2 separate regions of the Homo sapiens genome follow, and region 1 is linked to region 2. A link means that fine-mapping ties the variant in region 2 to the expression of a gene that starts in the linked region. Tissue or cell type: whole blood. Region 2 holds a variant in brackets; the other region holds the start of a gene. All regions are shown on one strand. Distances are between the middles of the regions. Region 1 holds the start of DPEP3 (dipeptidase 3). Region 2 overlaps GFOD2 (Gfo/Idh/MocA-like oxidoreductase domain containing 2).

Region 1 (5,234 bases), 290 kb after region 2:
GAGAAGATCACAGGAGCCTGAGACACTTCCAGGACCCTTCTTATCAAGGTGTCCGATGCATAGGACAAATCTATCATCATGCCCAGGCGGTTCAACTCCTCTACTACTTTCTGCAGAAACAATTAGGTTTTTTTGTGGGGGAGGGTGTTGGGGTGCAAAGGTGTACACACATATCCGTAGGCAGCAGGTGGGTTGGGGTACAAAACAGGAGTCCTCACCTCACCAAAGCTTGTCAATCCGCTGACGTTGGTGTACATGTGGTGTCTGAACTTGGTGGAACTCTCTGCCCTGCAGGACAGCCATGGAAGGGCAATTTAGCTGATCACACCTTGGGCCATCACAGCCTGGGGGCCCTGGCTCTATCCATCCATCCTGCTTCCAGAACAGGTGCAGAACCAGCTGCTTTCTGGGATTGTGAGGGACCCACTGGGTGTCCAGCCTCCCTCTGCGGACCCCTTCATCCTCAACGGCTTGGTCACACCCATGCCAGGAATGGGGCAGTTTCCACACCATGCCATCTAGCATCCTGGCCAGGTGTTATGCTCACCATGGTGTACTGCAGGTGAAGGTAAGTGTCAGGTAGCGCACCCCCAGCACATAGAAACTGCGCAGCACAGAGAGGCTGCTGTCCAGTGAGTGACCACCCTCCACGCCAATGAGGCAGGCCAGCTTTTGAGAGCTGTTCAGACCTAGAAGGAGGTAGAGAGTCAAGTGGTTAGATCCCAGGAACAGAACCTCCAGAGTGACATCCTGACTACCTCTCATCTGCTGGCCCACCTTCAGCTGAGGTCACAAGCTCGAGTTCAGAGTAGGAGGCACACATGCGGTGAATGAGGTCAATCTGCTCCAGGGCGAGGCGCACGGCAGTCTGGTCCTGGGACTGGCATGAGACGGAGGCTGACCAGAACTGAGGGTAGGTCAAGGGGTCCAGAATGAGGCCAGGGCGGTCTTCAACCCCCTAGGCCTGCCACTCCTGCCTCAGACCCCATAACACCCATTTGGGTCAGTGGCCCCAAGTGAGGCACTACATGACTCCATGGTACCTTGATGACTTTTTTTAAAATTATTTTTTATTTTTATTTTAAAATTTGAGACAGGGTCTTGCTCTGTCACCCAGGCTAGAGTGCAGTGGTGTGATCATGGCTCACTGCAGCCTTGACCCCCCAGGCTCAAACAATCCTCCTGCCTCAGCCTCCCAAAGTGTTGGCATTACAGATGTGAACTACCGAGCCTGGTTCCTTGATGACTGTTTGCTGCCAGCAGTCAAATGATGGACTCACGACACATCATAAATTACTGTTACGGCCAGGCCAAGTGGCTCATGCCTGTAATCTCCACACTGTGGGAGGCCGAGGAGGGTGGATCATGTGAGGTCAGGAGTTCGAGACCAGCCTGGCCAACATGGTAAAACCCTGTCTCTACTAAAACTACAAAAATTAGCAGGGCGTGGTGGCGAGTGCCTGTAATCCCAGCTACTCAGGAGGCTGAGGCAGGGAGAATTGCTTGAACCCGGGAGGCGGAGGTTGCAGTGAACCGAGATCGTGCCACTGTACTCCAGCCTGGGCGACAGAAGGAGACACTGTCTCAAAAATGCAAACAAACAAACAAGCAAAAAACTGCTGTTAGTCCATGTGCTATGTGAATGCCCCAAGGCCAATCCACTATGTCCTTTGTGGTTACGGCAGACCCCACACTCACCAGGGATTTTCTGGTCATTTTCTGCGTGTTTCCACAGAACCTGGGCATACATGCAGCTAGCCTGTCTTGGCCTCCAAGGCCCCACTCTCCTTAGAAACCACATGATGGCACACTGCATGCCCCATTGTATTTAGTCACCCAGAGGCTGGCTGACCCAGGTTTCTGTGACCCCAACATCCCCCAGCAGCCATGCTGTGGCACCCTGTGTGTCCCTGTGGTACCTGGGCACCCACGAGGCCGTCTCTAAGCCTGTCCAGGCTGGTCTGACCATGGCTGAAATTTCGCAGGTTAACATCCTGAAGCACATTCTTGTAACGCTGTCTCAGGACCTGGGGCAGGTCATTGTGGCTGGGGGTGTGAAGGTCAGATGGAAACACCGCCTCCAGATCAGTCAGGATATATCAGGTGCTTGGGTCTACCCTCCTCCACCCCACCAGGCACCTCCTCACACAGACCATATAGAGACCTCCTGAGGTTGGGTTGGAGGGAGGGGGTTAGATTCCACCAGGAATGGAGTAATGCGGGGAAGGGCACCCATGGGTGATGGAGGAGAGAGGGCATCCAGGGGTGGTGTGAGGGAGCCTCCTTGATAGCCTCCTTGATAGCATGCTCAGAACCTCCTCTCCTGCCCAAGGGTGTGCTCACCCCGCGTTGCCCAAACGCTGCACCTACATACCCGTCCACGAGTGGGAAACTCCGCATCAGGGCCTGCGCGCGACCCCGAAGGTCCAGGGTTTTGGGGGTGCCTGGCGTAGTGAGGCCTGGGGTAGTGAGGGCGCTGGGGACACCCGGCGTGGTGAAGAGGCTGGGGGAGCCCAGCGTGGAGAGGGCTCTGGGGGCGCCCGGCGTGGTCTCCGCGCGGGTTACGGGCTGCCGCAGCAGCAGCAGCAGTAGCAGGAGCAGCAGACGCCGCAGATACCGCCGGCTGAGCGCGCGGGAACCCTCGCGGCCCGTGGGCTGCATGTTGCGCGGGGGTCGGCCGCGGGAGCCTGGGAGGAGCAGGCGATGGGCAGAGGCCGACAATGGGGTCCGGATCATGACGACCCAGCCTCCCGAAGAGGGGGTTGAAGTCACGCGACTCTGAGACCGACGCGCCACGCAAGGGGGCGCCACGGCTTTTCCGCCCCCAAGCAGGAGAGCGCCCCCATGGGCCGGAACCGCCGCTGCAGCGTCGAGGACTCCTCGCCCTTCCACCCCCAGCGCTGGCTCCGTAGACCCCCACACGAGTGGGGGAGGAGGCCAGGCAGGGAACTAGTAGGGGCCCAGGGATCTTCCTGATCTCACCTCCTACCCAGGCCCACGTGGCGGTTAGCTGCCGGCTTGTGCCCAGCTCCTAGGCAGGTCAAATATTCTAAGCTGCGACTCAGAAGAGTTAATTCGGTCTGTCTGGTTTGATGGACAGAAAGATTCCCTATAGGTATTTCATTTCATTTCATTTCATTTCATTTCATTTCATTATTTCATTTCATCTCATTTCAGTTTTGAGACGGAGTTTGGGTCTTGTTGCCCAGGCTGGAGTGCAATGATGCAGTCTCGGCTCACTGCAACCTCCACGTCCCGGGTTCAAGCCATTTTCCTGCCTCAGCCTCCCGAGTAGCTGGGATTACAGGTGCCCGCCACCATGCCCAGCTAATTTTTGTATTTTCAGTAGAGATGGGGTTTTACCATGTTGGCCAGGCTGGCCTTGAACTCCTGACCTCAAGTGATCCTCCTGCCTCGACCTCCCAAAGTGCTGGGATTACAGGCGTGAGCCACCGTGCCCGGCCCCGAAAATGAAATTTAAGAACAATTTTTGTTGGGGATCATTATTTTAGCTTTTTTTCCTTCTCCAAGAGACAGAGTATCTGTCACCCAGGCTGGAGTTGCAGTGGGGTGATCATAGCTTGCTGCAGCCTTGATCATAGCTTGCTGCAGCCTTGAACTTCTGAGCTCAAGCGATCCTCCTTCCTCCACCTCCCAAGTAGCTGAGACTATAGGTGCAGTGCCACCATGCATGGCTAATTGTTATTTTTTATTTTATTAAAACAAATTTTTTTTTGAGACAGGGTCTCACTGGAGTGCAGTGGCACCATCTCAGCTCACTGTAGCCTCGACCTCCCAGGTAAAAGTGATCCTCCTGCTTCAGCTCCCTAAGTAGCTGGGAGGGACTACAGGCATGCACCACCATGCCCAGCTAATTTTTGTATATTTGCATTTTTTTTTAGAGACAGGGTTTTACCATGTTGCCCAGACTGGTCTTGAACTCCTGAGCTCAAGCGATCTGCCCACCTAGGTCTCCCAAAGTGCTAGGATTACAGGCATGAGCCACCACGTCCGGCCTTATTTCTTTTTTAGAGACGTGGTTTTTTTTTTGAGACGGAGTCTCACTGTGCCACCCAGGCTGGAGTGCAGTGGCTCCATCTCTGCTCACTGCAAGCTCCGCCTCCCGGGTTCATGCCAGTCTCCTGCCTCAGCCTCCCGAGTAGCTGGGACTACAGGCGCCCACCACCATGCCCAGCTAATTTTTTGTATTTTTAGTAGAGACCGGGTTTCACCGTGTTAGCCAGGATGGTCTTGATCTCCTGACCTCGTGATCCGCCCACCTTGGCCTCCCAAAGTTCCGGGATTACAGGCGTGAGCCACCGCACCGGGCCGAATATTTTTTTCTATATATATGTTAGTATACAGACACAAAAATGAGAGGTGACAGCGTGCTGGCAGCCCTCACAGCCCTCGCTCCCTCTCGGCACCTCCTCGGCCTTGGCGCCCACTCTGGCCGCGTTTGAGGAGCCCTTCAGCCCGTCGCTGCACTGTGGGAGCCCCTTTCTGGGCTGGACAAGGCTGGAGCCGGCTCCCTCAGCTTGCGGGTAGGTGTGGAGAGAGAGGCGTGGGCGGGAACCGTGGCTGCAGGCTGCGCTTGCGGGCCAGCTCGAGTTCCGGGTGGGCGTGGGCTTGGCAAGCCCCGCACTCGGAGCGGCCAGCCGGCCCGGGCAGTGAGGAGCTTAGCACCTGGGCCAGCAGCTGCTGTGCTCGACTTCTCGCTGGGCCTTAGCTGCCTCCCCGCCGGGCAGGGCTCGGGACCTGCAGCCCTCCATGCCTGAGCCTCCACCCCCGCCGTGCGCTCCTGTGCAGCCCAAGCCTCCCCGACGAGCGCCAACCCCTGTTCCACGGCGCCCAGTCCCATCGACTGCCCAAGGGCTGAGGAGTGCGGGCACACGGCGCCGGACTGGCAGGCAGCTCCACCTGCGGCCCCGGTGCAGCATCCACTGGGTGAAGCCAGCTGGGCTCCTGAGTCTGGTGGGGACTTGGAGAATCTTTATGTCTAGCTAAGGGATTGTAAATACACCAATCAGCACTCTGTATGTAGCTCAAGGTTTGTAAACACACCAATCAGCACCCTGTGTCTAGCTCCGGGGTTGTGAATGCACCAATCGACACTCTGTATCTAGCTAATCTAGTGGGGACGTGGAGAACTTTTGTGTCTAGCTCAGGGATTGTAAACGCACCAGTCAGCACCCTGTCAAAACGGGCCCATCAGCTCTCTGTAAAACAGACCA
Region 2 (5,234 bases):
GGTGTACAAATATCTCTTCTAGACTCTGCTTTCATTTGTTTGGGGCATATACCCAGAAGTGGAATTGCCGGGTCATGGTAATTAGATTTTTAATTTTCTGAGGAACCACCATACTGTTTTCCACAGTGGCTGTACCATTTTACATTTCCTCCAACAGCGTGCAAGACTTCTGATTTCTCCACGTCCTCACCAACCCTTGTTATTTTCTGGTGTTTTTTGTTGGTTAGCCGTTCTGATGGATGTGAGGTGACCATTATTCACTATTTTTTTTTTTTTTTTGAGACAGAGTCTTGTTCTGTCACCCAGGCTGGAGTGGAGTGGCACTGGTCTTGAACTCCCGACTTCAAGTGATCTGCCTGCCTCGGCTGCCCAAAGTGCTGGGATTACAGGCATGAGCCACCATGCCTGGCTTCATCATTCACTTTTATCGTTCACTTTTAAAGCCCCCCAGGTGATCCTAGTGTGCAGCCACCAGCTGAGAACCTCTGAACTATGTTTAACGCATGTGAAAAATTATCTACATTTGGAGTCATAACAAAATGTCCTGTTTGTTATATGTACACTTTCCTGAACCTTCTCACCCTCTGTATTATGATTAAAAGGACAAATCTGTCATTAAGAGGGAAAAATCTCTAACACAACTATTTTAACTTCTATGTATTACCTTTGGTAACATCATTTTACCAATAATTTTATAAACACCATACGGTCCCTTTGTTTACCAATTATTTATTGATTCTTTTTTGAAATGGAGTCTCACTCTGTCATCCAGGCTGGAGTGCAGTGGCACAATCTCAGCTCACTGCAACCTCCGCCTCTTGGGTTCAACCGATTCTCATGCCTTAGCCTCCCGAGTAACTGGGACTACAGGCATGTGTCATCATGCCCAGCTAATTTTTATATTTTTTAGTAGAGATGGGGTTTCACCATGTTGGCCAGGCTGGTCTTAAACTCCTGACCTCAGGTGATCCGTCTGCCTTAGCCTCCCAAAGTGCTGGGATCACAGGTGTGAGCCACTGTGCCTGGCCTACCAATTACCTTTAAAAAGCTAACTACTCCTGATCTTGGTCACTATCATAATTTTTATTTTGAGACAGATTCTTGCTCTGTTGCCCAGGCTGGAGTGCAATGGCTTGATCATGGCTCACTGCAGCCTCAACCTCACAGGCTCAAGGGATCCTCCCACCTCAGCCTCCTGAGTAGCTGGGATTACAGGTGCACACCACTGTGCCTGGCTAATTTTTGCATTTTTTGTAGAGACAGGGTTTCACTATGTCACCCAGGCTGGTCTCGAACTCCTGGCCTCAACTGATCTGCCCATCCTGGCCTCCCAAAGCGCTAGGATTACAGAAGCAAGTCACACTGTGCCTAGACCCCCCCCCAAAAAAAAAAAAATTAAGACTCTGCGGCAGGTCCCTCTGCATAGCACAGCTTCTGCTTTCTTTGAGATGACCAACTCCTGGAACTCCTCTCTACCCTACATCTTCCCTCCTCTGTAAATCTTTTCTGACTGTACCCCCCCAGGAGCTCCTCCCTCTGCACCTTCTATATACTTGCAATAGGAACTAAACTTACTCCTCTTTTGTGTCCTCAGGCCCACAAACACAGCAGGCCCTCCACTGATTAGTGAATGAATAAATTAATGAACTCACTGTGCTCAGTAAAGTGTTTTCTGGATGCGCCTACTCACTGGTGTCACCAGCTTCTCATGGCCACATTCGTCCATGAAACACCAAAGTTACCCTCTGAAAACATACTGGAGGTTCTATCCTCACGTGCTACTGATAGTGATACAGAATCGTACAGCTGTTCTGAATAACAAGTAATCTGGCCTTATATATAATTAAAACTATGCATTTTGTGACTCACAAATTCTACTCGTGTGTGTGTGTATGTGTGTTCCCAAAGAAATTCTCATAGGGATGCACTGATAAGGGATACAAAGATATTTACCACATCATGTCTGAGGTGCAGAGTTGGAGACAATCTGGGGATCAGAAGTGGGCAGGTAAAGTGTGGGGGATATACCCACTGGGGTTCTCTGCAAGTTAGAAACAATACTAGATGAATACAGTCACATGAATGAACTTGGTAAAAAAAAAAAAAAAAAGAAAACATAGCGAGCTCTAATACATTATTTATATAAACTAAAAATACACACACAGGCTGAGTGCGGTGGCTCACGCCTGTAATTCCAGCATTTTGGGAGGCAGAGGTGGGCGGATCACCTGAGATCAGTTCACGACCAGCCTGATCAACATGGCAAAACCCCATCTATACTAAAAAATAAAAAAATTAGCTGGATGTGATTGTGCACGCCTGTAGTCCCAGCTACTCAGGAGGCTGAGGCAGGAGAATCGTTTGAACCCAGGAAGCAGAGGTTGCAGTGAGCTGAGATAATGCCACTGCACTCCAGCTTGGGTGACAGAGCAAGACTCTGTCTCAAACAAAACAAAACAAAACAAAAACCCACACACATGCACAGAAACAAAAATGCTTCATAGGAAATTATACAAATGAAAGGATACATACTAAATACATTTACAGGGGATAGGGAAACCAGAGTAGAGAAAGGGGATAAAGGGGAATAATTTAAAAAAAAAAAAAAAGGCCGGGCACGGTGGCTCATGCCTGTAATCTCAGCTCTTTGGGAGGCTGAGGAGGGCGAATCACGAGGTCAGGAGATTGAGACCATCCTGGCTAACATGGTAAAACCCCGTCTCTACTAAAAATACAAAAACAAAATTATCCAGGCGTGATGGTGGGCACCTGCAGTCCCAGCTACTCGGGAGGCTGAGGCGGGAGAATGGCGTGAACCCAGGAGGCAGAGCTTGCAGTGAGCCGAGATTGCGCCACTGCACTCCAGCCTGGGCGACAGATTGAGACTCTGTCTCAAAAACAAAAACAAAAAAAAAAGGAAAATGTGGTTCTAAAAGGAATCCTTTCTCACTTTTTAAATAAAAAGCTTGCATTTCAAACACAAAGTGACAGATATATGTACCTCTGGTCCTACTAATGGGACACCATCAC[A/G]AGCTCCCTGATCTAGCCAAATCCAGGGAGTAGCACTGCATCTGCATATTTAGCCAGGACCACTTATAATTCAGACAAAGAACCTTATTTCAAATTAGCCACCACACCTGGCTTTTTGGGTTTTTTTTTTTTTGACACAGTCTCACTCTGTCACCCAGGCTGGAGTCCAGTGGTGCCATCTCGACTCACTGCAACCTCCGCCTCCTGGGTTCAAGTAAGTGGCTGGGACTATAGGTGCGTGTCATCACGCCCTGCTAATCATACCTGGCTAATTTTTTGTGTTTTTTGTAGAGACAGGGTTCCATCATGTTGCCCAAGCTGGTCTCAAACTCCTGGGCTCAAGCAATCCTCCTGCCTTGGCCTCCCAAATTGCTGGGATTACAGGCATGAGCCATGGTCCCTGGCTAGAATCTTTTTTGGGAAGTGGAAAAATGTACATTACAGAATGTACCATTTTAAACCATTTTTAGGTGTACAGTTCAGTGCACTAATACATTCGTATTGTGCAACCATCACCAACATCCACCTCCAGGACTTCATCATCATTCCATACTGAAACTCTGTACCCAGCCAAAATTAACCATTTTAAAGTGAACAATTCAGTGGCCGCTGGGTGCAATGCCTCATGCCTGTAATCCCAGCACTTTGGGAGGCTGAGGTGGGAGGATTACTTGTGCCCAGGAGTTTCAGGCTATAGTGGGTTATGATCATGCCATTGCACTCCAGCCTGGGTGACAGAGCAACAGAAAGACTCTGTCTCAAAAACAAAAAACAAACAAACAAACAAAAAAACCAACCCCCATAATCCAGTGGCATTTAGGACATACTTTTTTTTTTTTAAGACAGAGTCTTGCTCTATCACCCAGGCTGGAATGCAGTGGTGCAATCTTGGCTCACTGCAACTTCCACCTCCCGAGCTCTGAGGCTGAGGCGATTCTCCTGCCTCAGCCTCCTGACTGGCTGGGATTACAGGCACACGCCATCACACCTGGCTAATTTTTTTGTATTTTTAGTAGAGACAGGGTTTCACCATGTTCGCCAGGCTGGTCTCAAACTCCTGACCTCAGGTGATCCGCTCGCCTGGGCCTCCAGAAGTGCTGGGATTACAGGCATGAGCCACTGAGCCTGGCCTAATTTTTTATTTTTTGTAGAGATGGGGTCTCACTGTGTTACCTAGGCTGGTCTCAAACTCTGGCCTCAAACTCCTGGCCTCAAGCGATTCTCTCAGCTCAGCCTCCCAAGGTGGTGGGATTATAAGCGTGACCCACTGAGCCTGGCTTTTTAATAAAAAAGTTTTTTTTAATTTTATTTTAATATAGAGGCAGCATCTTACTATGTTGCCCAGGCTGGTCTTAAATTCCTGGCTTCAAGTGATCCTCCCACCTCGGCCACCCAAAGCACTGGGATTATAGGCATGAGACACCACGGCTGGAGAAATTGTTTTCTCAACTTCATTTTCAAGCCCAGCATCTCTTTTGCTCCTACTGTAGACACAAGTGTACTGGACTAAGAAAATGTCTATAGTAGGGGATGGTTTGTCAGCATAGCCCAGTATAACATCCTGTACTGCTCGATTCTATCTGAAGTACACCTGTTCCTTTGTGAACCACTAAATTACACATGACTTGGGCTGCCTCTAACTCCAGATCCCTGCCAATTTCGTGCCTCTTGTCTCCACTCTCTGTGACTGTGAAGCTTGGCTTGCCTCCTGTACTCTCACTGGGGTTGTTTTATTTTAACCAGCTTTCATTCTTTCTGATGGTAAACTGTCTGTGGCCACTCAGTCACCTTGCTTTCCTTTTCTACTTTCTCCATCTCTCTCTTTTTTTTTTTTTTTTTTTTTTTGAGACGGAGTCTCACTCTGTCGCCTAGGCTGGAGCGTAATGGTGCAATCTCGGCTCACTGCAACCTTTGCCGCTCCGGTTCAAGCGATTCTCCTTGCCTCAGCTACTACCTCAGTAGCTGGGGTTACAGGCACACGCCACCATACCCAGCTAATCTTTGTATTTTTAGTAGAGACAAGGTTTTACCATGTTGGCCAGGCTGGTCTCGAACTCCTGACCTCAGGTGATCCACCCGCCTTGACCTCCCAAAGTGCTGGGATTACAGGCATGAGCCACTGAGCCCAGCCACCATCTCTCTCTTTTCTCTTTGCTAATTCTGCCCCTACAGGCTTCTCTACTAGTTTTCTTAGAAAACAGGTC

What was found. PIP is the estimated chance that this variant, and not a neighbour inherited with it, causes the effect. A credible set is the group of variants that fine-mapping cannot tell apart.
Region 1: DPEP3 starts here. The variant in region 2 is the best candidate, but not a certain one, in a credible set for the expression of DPEP3 in whole blood (INTERVAL, PIP 0.61).

Annotation. Positions count from the first base shown.
Region 1 is chr16:67,977,720-67,982,953 of GRCh38, forward strand. DPEP3 (dipeptidase 3) reads right to left here and starts at 2,780. Exons shown (of 10, transcript NM_001370198.1): 1 at 2,375-2,780; 2 at 1,920-2,046; 3 at 778-907; 4 at 548-689; 5 at 219-288; 6 at 1-110. The coding sequence starts at 2,661. RefSeq lists an enhancer at 2,104-2,604.
Region 2 is chr16:67,690,136-67,695,369 of GRCh38, forward strand. The region is part of intron 1 of GFOD2 (Gfo/Idh/MocA-like oxidoreductase domain containing 2); the gene reads right to left. Among named protein-coding and RNA genes, the nearest start is that of C16orf86, 26 kb to the left of the region's middle. The variant A/G (reference allele first, on the strand shown) is at 3,031.